2 separate regions of the Homo sapiens genome follow, and region 2 is linked to region 1. The links come from fine-mapping of genetic effects on gene expression. A gene starts in region 1. The other region holds a variant in brackets. All regions are shown on one strand. Distances are between the middles of the regions. Region 1 holds the start of SLC5A11 (solute carrier family 5 member 11). Region 2 has its middle 69 kb from the start of SLC5A11.

The links. PIP is the estimated chance that this variant, and not a neighbour inherited with it, causes the effect.
Region 2: its variant is the best candidate, but not a certain one, in a credible set for the expression of SLC5A11 in whole blood (TOPMed, PIP 0.58).

What each region holds. Positions count from the first base shown.
Region 1 is chr16:24,843,701-24,849,072 of GRCh38, forward strand. It overlaps SLC5A11 (solute carrier family 5 member 11), which reads left to right and starts at 2,263. Exons shown (of 17, transcript NM_001352248.3): 1 at 2,263-2,312; 2 at 2,532-2,738.
Region 2 is chr16:24,912,707-24,918,078 of GRCh38, forward strand. No RefSeq gene overlaps it. Among named protein-coding and RNA genes, the nearest start is that of SLC5A11, 69 kb to the left of the region's middle. The variant T/G (reference allele first, on the strand shown) is at 2,287.

The sequences.
Region 1 (5,372 bases):
GGTAACTTTATAAGAAATGTCCAAATAGTTCTCTAAAGTGGTTATACAGTTCTTTTTTTTTTTTTTTTTTTTTTTGAATTGAGATCTCATTCTGTTGCCTCGAGTGTAGTGGCACTATCATGGCTCACTGCAGCCTTGAACTCCTGGGCTCAAACGATTCTCCCACCTCAGTCTCCTGAGTAGCTGGGACTACAGGTGCACACTGCTATGTCCATCTAATTCTTCCTATTTTGTGTAGAGATGAGGGTCTCACTGAGTTACCCAGACTGGCCTCTAACTCCTGGCCTCAAGAGATCCTCCTGCCTCAGCTTCCCAAAGCTCTGAGATGATAGCATGAGCCCCTGCACTCCACCTCTCCTATTCTTTATAGCACTGAGGGTAAAAATGAAAAACCTGACAGAGAAACAATCGGAGGTGACAAGCCAAGGGTCGAGCAGGCCACATCTGGCCCTCAAGGATGCGTAATCATGAAACTTTGCAGAACTTCTCTAGAACAATCAGAAGTTCTGACCCCATTGGGCCTGTCTTCCCCCACGTGGAGCTGGGTCGTGGCTGTCCTCTTCAGCTGGGACACATGCTCTCGGGTCAGCCTCAGCTCCACCTGCCCGGCTTCACTCACTACCACGCCTCTTCTGTAGACACCCTGCACATGGCTAAGGCTCCCCAGACATTCCCAAGAAGTCAGGACTGGACCCCAGGTTGGCGAAGCAGTGCACCCTCGGTGGCACCCCACTGCCTTTCCTGGTGCTGTGGCCTCTGCTGCAGATCACAGATTCATGGCCTTCTGTCTGTCCCTCTTCTCCAATCCCAGCTGTTCCTTCTGTAAATCTGTCCCCCAGGGCAGGTCCCTCCCCCAAAGGCCCCATTCATACTGGTGTTGGTCAGTCACCCAGTGTTTGCTCACCCAGGCCACCCTTTATCCAGTCAAGCCACCCTCCACTGCTCCTGCAGGACTCTAGAGCCAGGTGGCCTGGGCTGAAATCTTGCTGTGTCACTTACAACCCGGGTGATCCTGGGCCGATGACTCATCTCCTCTACCTCTGTTACCTCGTCAGTAAGATAGAGATAACAGGACCTAACTTCGAGGGTTGTTGGAAAGACCAAGTGAGTAAAGGCATGTTGTGCCCTTAGAGCCTGGCACGTGTTCATCACTGCTATTATTTCTGGCTACTCGGTGCCAGGACAGGGGCCTCAGCTGAGGGCCCCCCAGAGCCTGGCAGGCCCAGTGAAGGAGTGAGATGGGGAGGCCACGACTCCTCCCCAGTCAGCAGCTGTCCTGTGGCCATGGGGGCCTGGTGAGGCCAGATCTTCAGGTTGTTCTAGAAAAGTGAGTATTCTAGAATTATGTTTCAAGCCTCTTGGTTTGCAAATACTAGTAACTATTTTTAAAATGTTTTGGTATTTGGCCTGGCACAGTGTTTGACCCCTGTAATCCCAGCACTTTGGGAGGCCAAGGTGGGAGGATCACTTAAACCCAGGAGTTGGAGACCAGCCTGGGCAACATAGCAAGATTCTCTCTCTACCAAAAAAATGAAAAAATTAGCTGGGTGTGGTGGTGCACGCCTGTAGTCCCAGCTACTCGGGAGGCTGTGGTGGGAGGATCACTTGAGCCCAGGAGGATGAGCCTGCAGCAAGCTGTGATGCCACCACTGCACTCCAGCCTGGGTGACAGAGTGAGATCCTGTCTCAGAAATAAAAAGTAAATAAAGTTTTGGATGCTTTGAGCATCTGGCAGAAATCTTCGCTATGCCCCGCTGATGTCCTGGGCCCGATGTGGGCGCCTGGCCATGGCTCGGTCACTCCTGACGGTTTTTCAGGGCCTCAGACACCTCTTCTTCTTCTTCTTCTTCTTTTTTTGAGACTGATTTTCGCTCTTGTTGCCCAGGCTGGAGTGCAATGGTGTAATCTCGGCTCACCACAACCTCCGCCTCCCGGATTCAAGTGATTCTCCTGCCTCAGCCTCCCGAGTAGCTGGGACCACAGGCATGCACCACCATACCCGGCTAACTTTGTATTTTTAGTAGAGATGGGGTTTCTCCATGTTGGTCAGGCTGGTCTCGAACTCTCGACTTCAGGCAGACACCTGTTCTTTGCCATGCCTCTGTCTGAAGAGTATATGGAAAGGGGTTGCACAAGCAATGGTTGCTGTTCCTGTTGCTGCCACTGCGGTGAGGGCTGTGGCTGGACGTCCCTCCTGGCACTTTGCCTCTGTCCCCTCCATCCGCCGCCAGCATTTTTCCTCCCCTCCCCTTCCTCCAGCTCGTCCCAAGCCTGCCTGTCCCCAGCGTGGAGGCGGGACAGTGGAAGACTGGGTGAGTGAAGCAGGATGGTGCCTTGGGCTCCAGCGTCTCCCCAACCCCTCCATGCCATGGGTCCCCACGCAGGTGAGGACCCTGGTGGAGGACGGTGTGGGCAGAGCGTGGGACATGTCACCTTCCCCACCTGCTCAGAGTTCAAGGGTCCTGGGCTGGGCCCCGTTCTCTCTTCTGCCCTGGGGAGATCATTCACGCTTCCTTTAATCCCCGCTGCAGCTGAGGCTGGAGTTTGGAGTTTGACCCGCTTGGAGGCTCTCTCAGCAGCGGGCATATAGGAGGAAGGGTCACTGCTGTCTCCGGAAGCTCTTGGCTGCAAAGAGAGAGGATCCCGGGTATCTCCCTCCTTACAACCACCGCCACCTCCTAGTGCCTTAGAAGCCACTGACAGCCCCCAGGGCAGGTGAGCCCTGCATCTGGAATAAGGTAAGACACCCCCTGCCCCCAAACAGGTAGCCACTCTCCAAACTGGGAAGTTGGTCTGGGGACAGGTGCTGGCAGAAGGACTCCAGCTGTCACCTGTGGGGCAGGGGAAGCTCAGCCCTCTCTGCAGAGAAAGCTTGTCATACACCAGGACAATGGAGTGTGTTTGTGGGGTGGGCATGGTGGTATGAAGCCAGCAGCCGGCAGCCAGCAGCACCGTACGTGGGTCCCAGCTCTTCCACTTAACCAAGGTCAGGGACATTGAGCCAAACATTTTGCCTCACCGAGTCTCAGGTTCCTTATCTGTCAAATGGGAATATGAACCTCAGGCTGACCCACCCCACAGGTGTGTTACCCAGAGATAACGAAGGTAAATGTATCCACATAAGCATTAAAAAGCTATAGGAATGTATTTACTACAACTGCAGCTGCTGTTAACTACAAGGCAAATACAAGTCTTCACTGGTACGTGTCAGACACGTGCAGAGAACTTTACGCCTGGATCTCATCTAACTGACACAGAAACCCTGTAAGGTAGGTACAGCACCCCCTAATTCATGGACAGAGTCTAAGGGTCATTAAATAACTTGCTCAAGGTAATACAGATAGTGAGTGGCCAAGCCAAGACTCAATTCCTGTGGCCATGAGCTCAGCCACAATATCAGTGATTTTCTTTTTCTTTCCTTTCTTTCTTTTTCTCTTTCTTTCTTTTTCTTTCTTTTCCTTTCTTTTCTTTGTTCTTTCTTTCTTTCCTTCTTTCTTTTATTTCTTTCCTTATTCCTTTCTTTCCCTTTCTTTCTCCTTCCTTCTTTCCTTCCTTCCCTCCCTCCCACCTCTCTGTTTCTCTTTCTTTTCCCTTTTTTCTTTCTTTCTTTCTTTCTTCTCTCTCTTTTATTATTTATTTCTTCCTTTCTTTCCCTTTCTCCTTCCTTCTTTCCTTCTTTGCCTCCTCTCTCTCTCTGTGTGTGTTTTCTGTTCTCTCTCTCTCTCGTTTCTTTTCTGTCTTTTCTTTCACAGGGTCTCTCTGTGTTGCCCAGGCTGAAATGTAGTACTATCATAGCTCACCAGCATGCCCTGCTAACTTTTTTATTTTTATTTTTTGTACAAATGGGGTCTCCCTGTGTTGCCTTGGCTGGTCTCAATCTCCTGAACTCAAGCGATTCTCCCGCCTCAGCCTTGCAAAGTGCTGGGATTACAGGCATGAGCCACTGCACCCTACCAATCAGTGGTTTTCAAATGGTGTTCTGCTGAATTATTCTGGGCAATAGTTGACAGAAGTGTCCTAGCCCATTGGGCATCCTGCAGATAGGACTTGGAAAAATGCTGTCCCTTTTTTGGGCGGTCACAGCGTGCAAAGGATCTATAGCAAAGGCTCTAAAAATCCCACATTTATTTGTTGTACCAACATTTATTGCATGCCTGTTTTGGGGACACAATGAGAGTGACAGAGACATGGACCTTTCTTTATGGGGCTTGCTGTGCAGTGCAGACAAGGGGTAATCACACACATCAAGTGTTACACTTGATTAGACTGTGATGAGAAGTTGTGTTTGCCATGAAAGCAAAAAGCTTGGGGACCCAATTTATATTGAGGCCAAGAGGGGGCTCCTTTGGGGATATACAGCAGGCTGACATCTAAAGGATGAGTAGGAGCTTGTCCAGCAAAGAGTGCAGGGAAGAGCATCCCAGGCAGAGGGAACAGAATGGCAAAGACCCTGAGGCCAGAAATCGTGTTCCAGGAATAAAATGAATGCTAGTATGTGGTGGGGTTGGAAGCACAACAAAGCACCCCAGCAGCATGGAGATGTTTTGAGCAGGAAAATGATCTGATCTGACTCATACTTAAAGATTTCTCTGGCTTCCGTGTGAGGGGCGGATTAAAAGGAAGCAAGGCTGGGTGAGGTGGCTCATGCCTGCAACCTCAGTGCTTTGGGAGGCCAAGTTGGGAGGATTGCTTGAGGCCTGGAGTTTGAGACCCGTCTGGGCAACATAGCAAGACCCCGTCTCTACAAAAAAATTACAAAATAAGAAGTTAGCTGGAGGCCAGGCATGGTGGCTCACACCTGTAATCCCAGCACTGTGCAGGGATCATTTGAGCCCATGGGGTTGAGGCTGCAGGAGCTGTGTTTGTGTCACTGCACTTTAGCCCAGGCAACAGAGTGAAACCCTGTCTCAAAAAATAAAAAATTAGCTAGGCATGTTGGCATGTACCTGTGGTCCCACCTACTTGGGAGACGGAGGTGGGAGGATCCCTTGAGCACAGATGTTCGAGAGTTTGAGGCCACAGTGAGCTCTGATGGCACCATTGCACTGCGGCTTGGTCAAGGGAACAAGACCCTGTCTCTAAAAATTAAGTAAATTAAAACAAAAATAAAATAATAAAATAAAAAGGAAGGAAGAATGGATATCGGGGAGGTAAGACTGGAGGGTCTTTCTCTAACCTAGACAGAAGTGATGGTGGCTCAGACAAGGGTGATAGCACTAAAAATGAGGGAAAATGTGTGGATTTATTATGTTTTGGAAGTAAGAGAGAATGGAATTGGGAGTGAATAGATTCTGGGAGGTGAGAAAGAGATGCTATAAATTCTTCGATGAGACATTTACATACCAGGCACTCTTGGTGCTTAGATGTAGTGC
Region 2 (5,372 bases), 69 kb after region 1:
CCCAGCCTTAGACTGTGTTTCTTTGCTTAATTCCCCATGATGATGCTTCCCTAAAAAGAAGCAGCCAGGTGGATGTGCATCTCAATGAACCTCCCCACCAAAAGCCAGTAAGGCTTTGACCTGCAGAGCAGCGGCCTCCTGTTCTGGGTAGAGCCAGCCTCCTCAGCTTCCCAGCTTTGGGCCCACTGGAGTCTGACGGAATGACCCATCAGGGCTGCGTTTGCCACGTGCAGAGCTAAGAGCAGGACAGGGCCAACGGAGTGAGCCCTGAGACCATCTCTGGAGTAGCTCAGGGCCATGAACCATCCAGGCCTGGGATAAGGTGGGGTGGACTAGAACCCCTTCCTGGCCTGACAGAGCTGGAAAGCAGAGGAGTCTCTCGAGGGACCCCAATTTTCAGACCAGAGGAAAGTAAACAGGACCCCCTGGGGCTGAGGAGCTGCCCACCCACTTAATCCTCCAGTGATGATGTCTTTCTGGTTCCTACTTGATGCCAACAGCTAGGACTGGCCTGGTGCACAGGCAAATAATGTATTGGTCCAGCCTCAGCTCTGCTCATAGGCCCAGCTCTCTACAGGAATCCAAATAGCAGTAGTAGGTTGGACAAAGGGCACCCCCAGCCCTCCTGGGAAGGGGTATGGGCGGGGAACTGGCTGCTAACATGGCTCCAGGCAGGAGCGTGGAATGGTTCTGGAGCAAGTGGGCTCAAGGAGAAGTCTTCACCGGGGAGGTTGAGCTTCTGCCTCCAAGGCCCAAAGAAGGGGAGTGGGCGGCATGGGAGGCTTCCACTACAGTCCTGAGCTCCCCGTCCAAGCCTGCCCCTCACACCAAGACCCCTGTTGCCTCTGGCTGGGGTCAACAGTGTGTTTCAGCAGGGACGCACTGAGCTGTCACTATGATAGCTCAGGCCACCCCCATCTCTGCCCGGACTCCTGACTGCCTTCTCACATCCAGTCTTCCCATTCTCCAGCCACTGGCAGGGTGAGCAACTCGGATCAAGCCAATCCTCTGCTTGGAATCCTTCAGAGACCTTCCCACTCAGGATGAACTCTGCAATCCTTTGCCTTCCTTTTTTTTTTTTTTTTTTTTTTTTTTTTTGAGACAGGCTCTCACTCTGTTGCCCAGGCTGGAACACAGGGTGCGATCATGGCTCAATGCATTCTCAAACTCCCAGGCTCAGGTGATCCTCCCACCTCAGCCTCCTGGGTAGCTGGGACTACAAGTACGCACCACCATGCCTGGCAATTTTTGTTGGTTGTTGTTGTATTTTGTGGAGAAGGCATTTTGCCATATTGCCCAGGCTGGTCTCCAACTCCTGGGCTCATGTGATCCACCTGCCTTGGCCTCCCAAAGTGCTGGGATTACAGGTGTGAGCCCCCATATCTGGCCTTTTTTTTTTTTTTTTTTTTTTTTTTTTTTTTTACAGACAGGGTCTTGCACTTTGTCACCCAGGCTGGAGTGCATTGGCATGATCATGACTTACTGGACCCTCGAACTCCTGCCTCAACCTCTTGAGTAGCTGGAACTACAGACATTTGGCCACCATACCTGGCTAATTTTAATTTTTTTATGTAGATGGGGTCTTACTATGTTGCCCTGGCTGGTCTCAAACTGCCGGCTTCAAGCAATTCACCCACCTCAACCTCTCAAAGTGCTGAGATTACAGGTGTGAGCTGCTGTGCCCAGCCAGCTGAGAGATTTTAAATGTTCTCGCCACAAAAAATAAATGATAATGGAGGTGATGGATATATTAATTAGCTAGATTTAACCATTCTGCAATGTATACATATACAAAAACATGTCGTATACCATAACTTTTATCAATTTAAAAAACCAGTGCAGTGCAAATACAATTTACAGATGTGCACAGAAACTGAATTCAGGCCAGGTGCAGTGGCTCACATCTGTAATCCCAGCACTTCAGTGGGCTGAGGTGAGTGGATCACCTGAGGTCAGGAGTTCAAGACCAGCCTGGCCAACAGATCAAAACCTCATCTCTACTAAAAATAAAAAAATTAGCCTGGCATGGTGGTGGGTGCCTGTAGTCCCAGCTACTTGGGAGGCTGAGGCAGGAGAATGGCTTGAACCTGGGAGGCAGGGGTAGCAGTAAGCCGAGATCATGTCACTGCACTCCAGCCTGGGTGACAGAGCAAGATTCCATCTTAAACAAATAGAATGACAACCAAAAACCCCAAATTCAAATACAAGTAGAAAGAGTGAAAACAGAACCCTGAGGATTTTTTTAGGTTGGGGTTCTTCCTTGTATCAAATATCCCCCTCCCCACA[T/G]GTCATTTGTGATGATGTTTCGTGTGTGAAGGATAGACCCTAAGGTGACCCTCAATCATCCCTACTTCCTGGGAAGTGGATCCTTCCCCAGCCCAGCCTCCAGATGAGATCCCAGCCCTGGCTGCTGCCTTGACTGCAGCAGATGAAGATCCTGGACAGAGGACCCAGAGAAGCTGTGCCTGGACTCCTGACCCACAGGAGCTGTGAGAAAATGAACATGTGTTGTTGTAAGCTGCTAAGTATGTGATCATCTGTCATGCTGCACTGGATAACTGACATGAGGGGCATGGTGTGTGAACGCATGTGTGGATGTAAAGGAGGGGTTGGCTGGAGAGGGTGTGGGAGGAGGACAGTTGCCTGCAGAGCTGTGTGGGGTCTACACAGCCATGTACCTCCTTTGGAGGGTATCGAGTACAAGTAATTTGGTTGCCAGTAAGAGAAACAAACCCAAAGAGGAACGTTTGTGCCAAAAACAAGCACTTTATTGTGAGCATACAAAGGCAAGAAATGCAGAATGGCTTCAGGCACACAAACCGGGAGCTGGGAGGGTTTTAAAAACCAAGCCCTGCACTCTCTCCCTCTTATCTTTTGTCCCTGCCTCTCCGCACATCTGCTGACTTCTCCCTCTGCAGGCAGGTTTTCTCTACTCCACAGAATCCACGGTGGTGGCAGGGCACCCACAGCTCCGTGCCGGGAGACAGGGGTCCTGCCTGCTGGGGAAGAGACTCAGGGCCCATGCCTGTGCGAACCCATGCGGGACAGGGTGGGGATGGCCATGTGTGCAGCCTGCTGTGGGCAGGAGGGAAACTAAGGGGGTCCTTGACTTGCTCCCCTCCCTTAGCTGGCAGCTCAAGTGGTCTTGGTCACTTCTTGTCTTTTGGCTGCACCAGAGCCTGTGGCTTCCCCGCACCAGCACATCTCCTCCTCTCTAGCTCCACCGATGAGATAGGAGGAAAGTGCAAGCCCTTGACTGAGAAGCATCCCTATGAGTGAGGTGCTTGCTGCCCAGTCTGATGCAAAACCCTGAGACCGTGGGTCCCAGAGGCCAGAGGCACTGGAATATGGTGAGGAAATCGTGGGAGGAGACCTCAGGGAGAAACCAGGAGGGTTTGTCTTAAGACCTTCAAATAGGAGCACTTGTGGGACTCACTGGGCTTGGGAGACACTGAGAACTGCAGCCCCAACAGAGGAGCGGGAGTCACTCCACGGAGCTCCCAGAGAACCAGGGCCATCACAATGGTCCAGGGATGGGGTCACTCCAATGGCATCTGAATTTTTTTTTTTTTTTTGAGACAGAGTCTCGTGTCACCCAGGCTGGAGTTCAGTAGATGATCTTGGCTCATTGCAACCTCTGCCTTCCAGGTTCAAGCAATTCTCTTGCCTCAGACTCCTGAGTAGCTGGAACTACAGGCGCGTGTCACCACACAAGCCTTTTTTTTTTTTTTTTTTTTTTTTTTTTTTTTTTTAGTAGAGACAGGGTTTCACCATGTTGGCCAGGCTGGTCTCAAACTCCTGACCTCAAGTGATCCACCCACGTCAGTCTCCCAAAGTCCTGGGATTACAGGCACGAACCGCTGCGCCTGGCTAATTTTGTGTGTGTGTGTACACACACACACACACACACACACACACACACATATAATTTTTTTTTTTAGAAGAGATGGGGTTTTGCCATGTTGGGCAGGCTGGCTTCAAACTCCTGACCCCGTGATCCGCCCACCTCGACCTCCCAAAGTGCTGGGATTACAGGCATGAGCCACTGCGCCTGGCTAATTTTTTTTGTGTGTATGTGTATATATATATATATATATATACACATACACGCGCACACACACACACACACACACACACACACACACACATATATATAATTTTTTTTTAAGAAGAGATGGGTTTTGCCATGTTGGCCAGGCTGGTCTCAAACTCCTGACCCCGTGATCCACCCACCTCGACCTCCCAAAGTGCTGGGATTATGGGCATGAGCCACCACACCCAGCGCATCTGAACTCTTGGAATGACCACAGGGTGGAACTCGGCAAAACCAAGGCAGCCAGGGCTCTACTCTGAGCCTCTGCAGTCTCCACAGTGCTGGGTGCAGGACAAGCTCCTTCCAGAATGCTAGGTGAGTGCTAAACCACAGGGGGTAGTGAGAGGAACCGGTGCCTGACCAAGGAGGTTTGGTGCAGGTGGGGGAGCAGGGACACGAAGTCTGAGCGCAAGGGCCTAGAACATTCTATAAGAAACTACTGTGTAGAGAAGGGAAGGAAACAATCTGAAGGGCAGATGGCCAGTGCCCTTCTGGACAGCCAGAAATGGCCACTATGGGTTCAGATTCTCTGCCTCTCTGACGGTGGGCAGGCTGGAAATGGTGTGCCTAACGTACAGTGCCAACACAGTACAACGCCTCCAGCAGAAGGAATCCCGGGCCACAGAACGGGAAAGAGGATCCAGGTGCCTCTCCTGGCCCTGCCGGTGGGATGCTCAGCCATGTATCCCACCCTAGACAGTTCTGGGTTTTTTTTGTTTTTGTTTTTTTTGAGACAGAGTCTCACTTTGTTGCCCAGGCTGGAGTGCACTGGCTTGATCTGGGCTCACTGTAGTCTCTGTCACCCAGGTTCAAGTGATTATCCTGTCTCAGCCTCCTAAGTAGCTGGGATTACTGGCACCCACCACGATGCCAAGTTAATTTTTTGTATCTTTAGTAGACATGGGGTCTCACCATGTTGACCAGGCTGGTCTTGAACTCCTGACATCAAGTGATCTGCCCGCCTCGGCCTCCCAAAGTGTGGTCTTTACCTTTGACACATACACAGAGTCAAATGACTTTCATTGTTTTGAAGTTTGCAGCTGTCAGGGTAGGAAGATTGCTGCAAACAATAGGAGAGTAAAAACTGAATGAGGCTCTTAAAATAATGAGGTATGGTTTGCTGTATTTCAGAATCAGCAATGATGAACACATGCTATATGCTGGGCAGGATGTCAGCATGGATGTTTCTCATCCCCAGGTGCCAACAGCATCTCCTTGACAAGCGCCCAAGTCCCTGCTTCCTCTGGAGGACAAGCTCAGGCATCACGATGGGAGCATC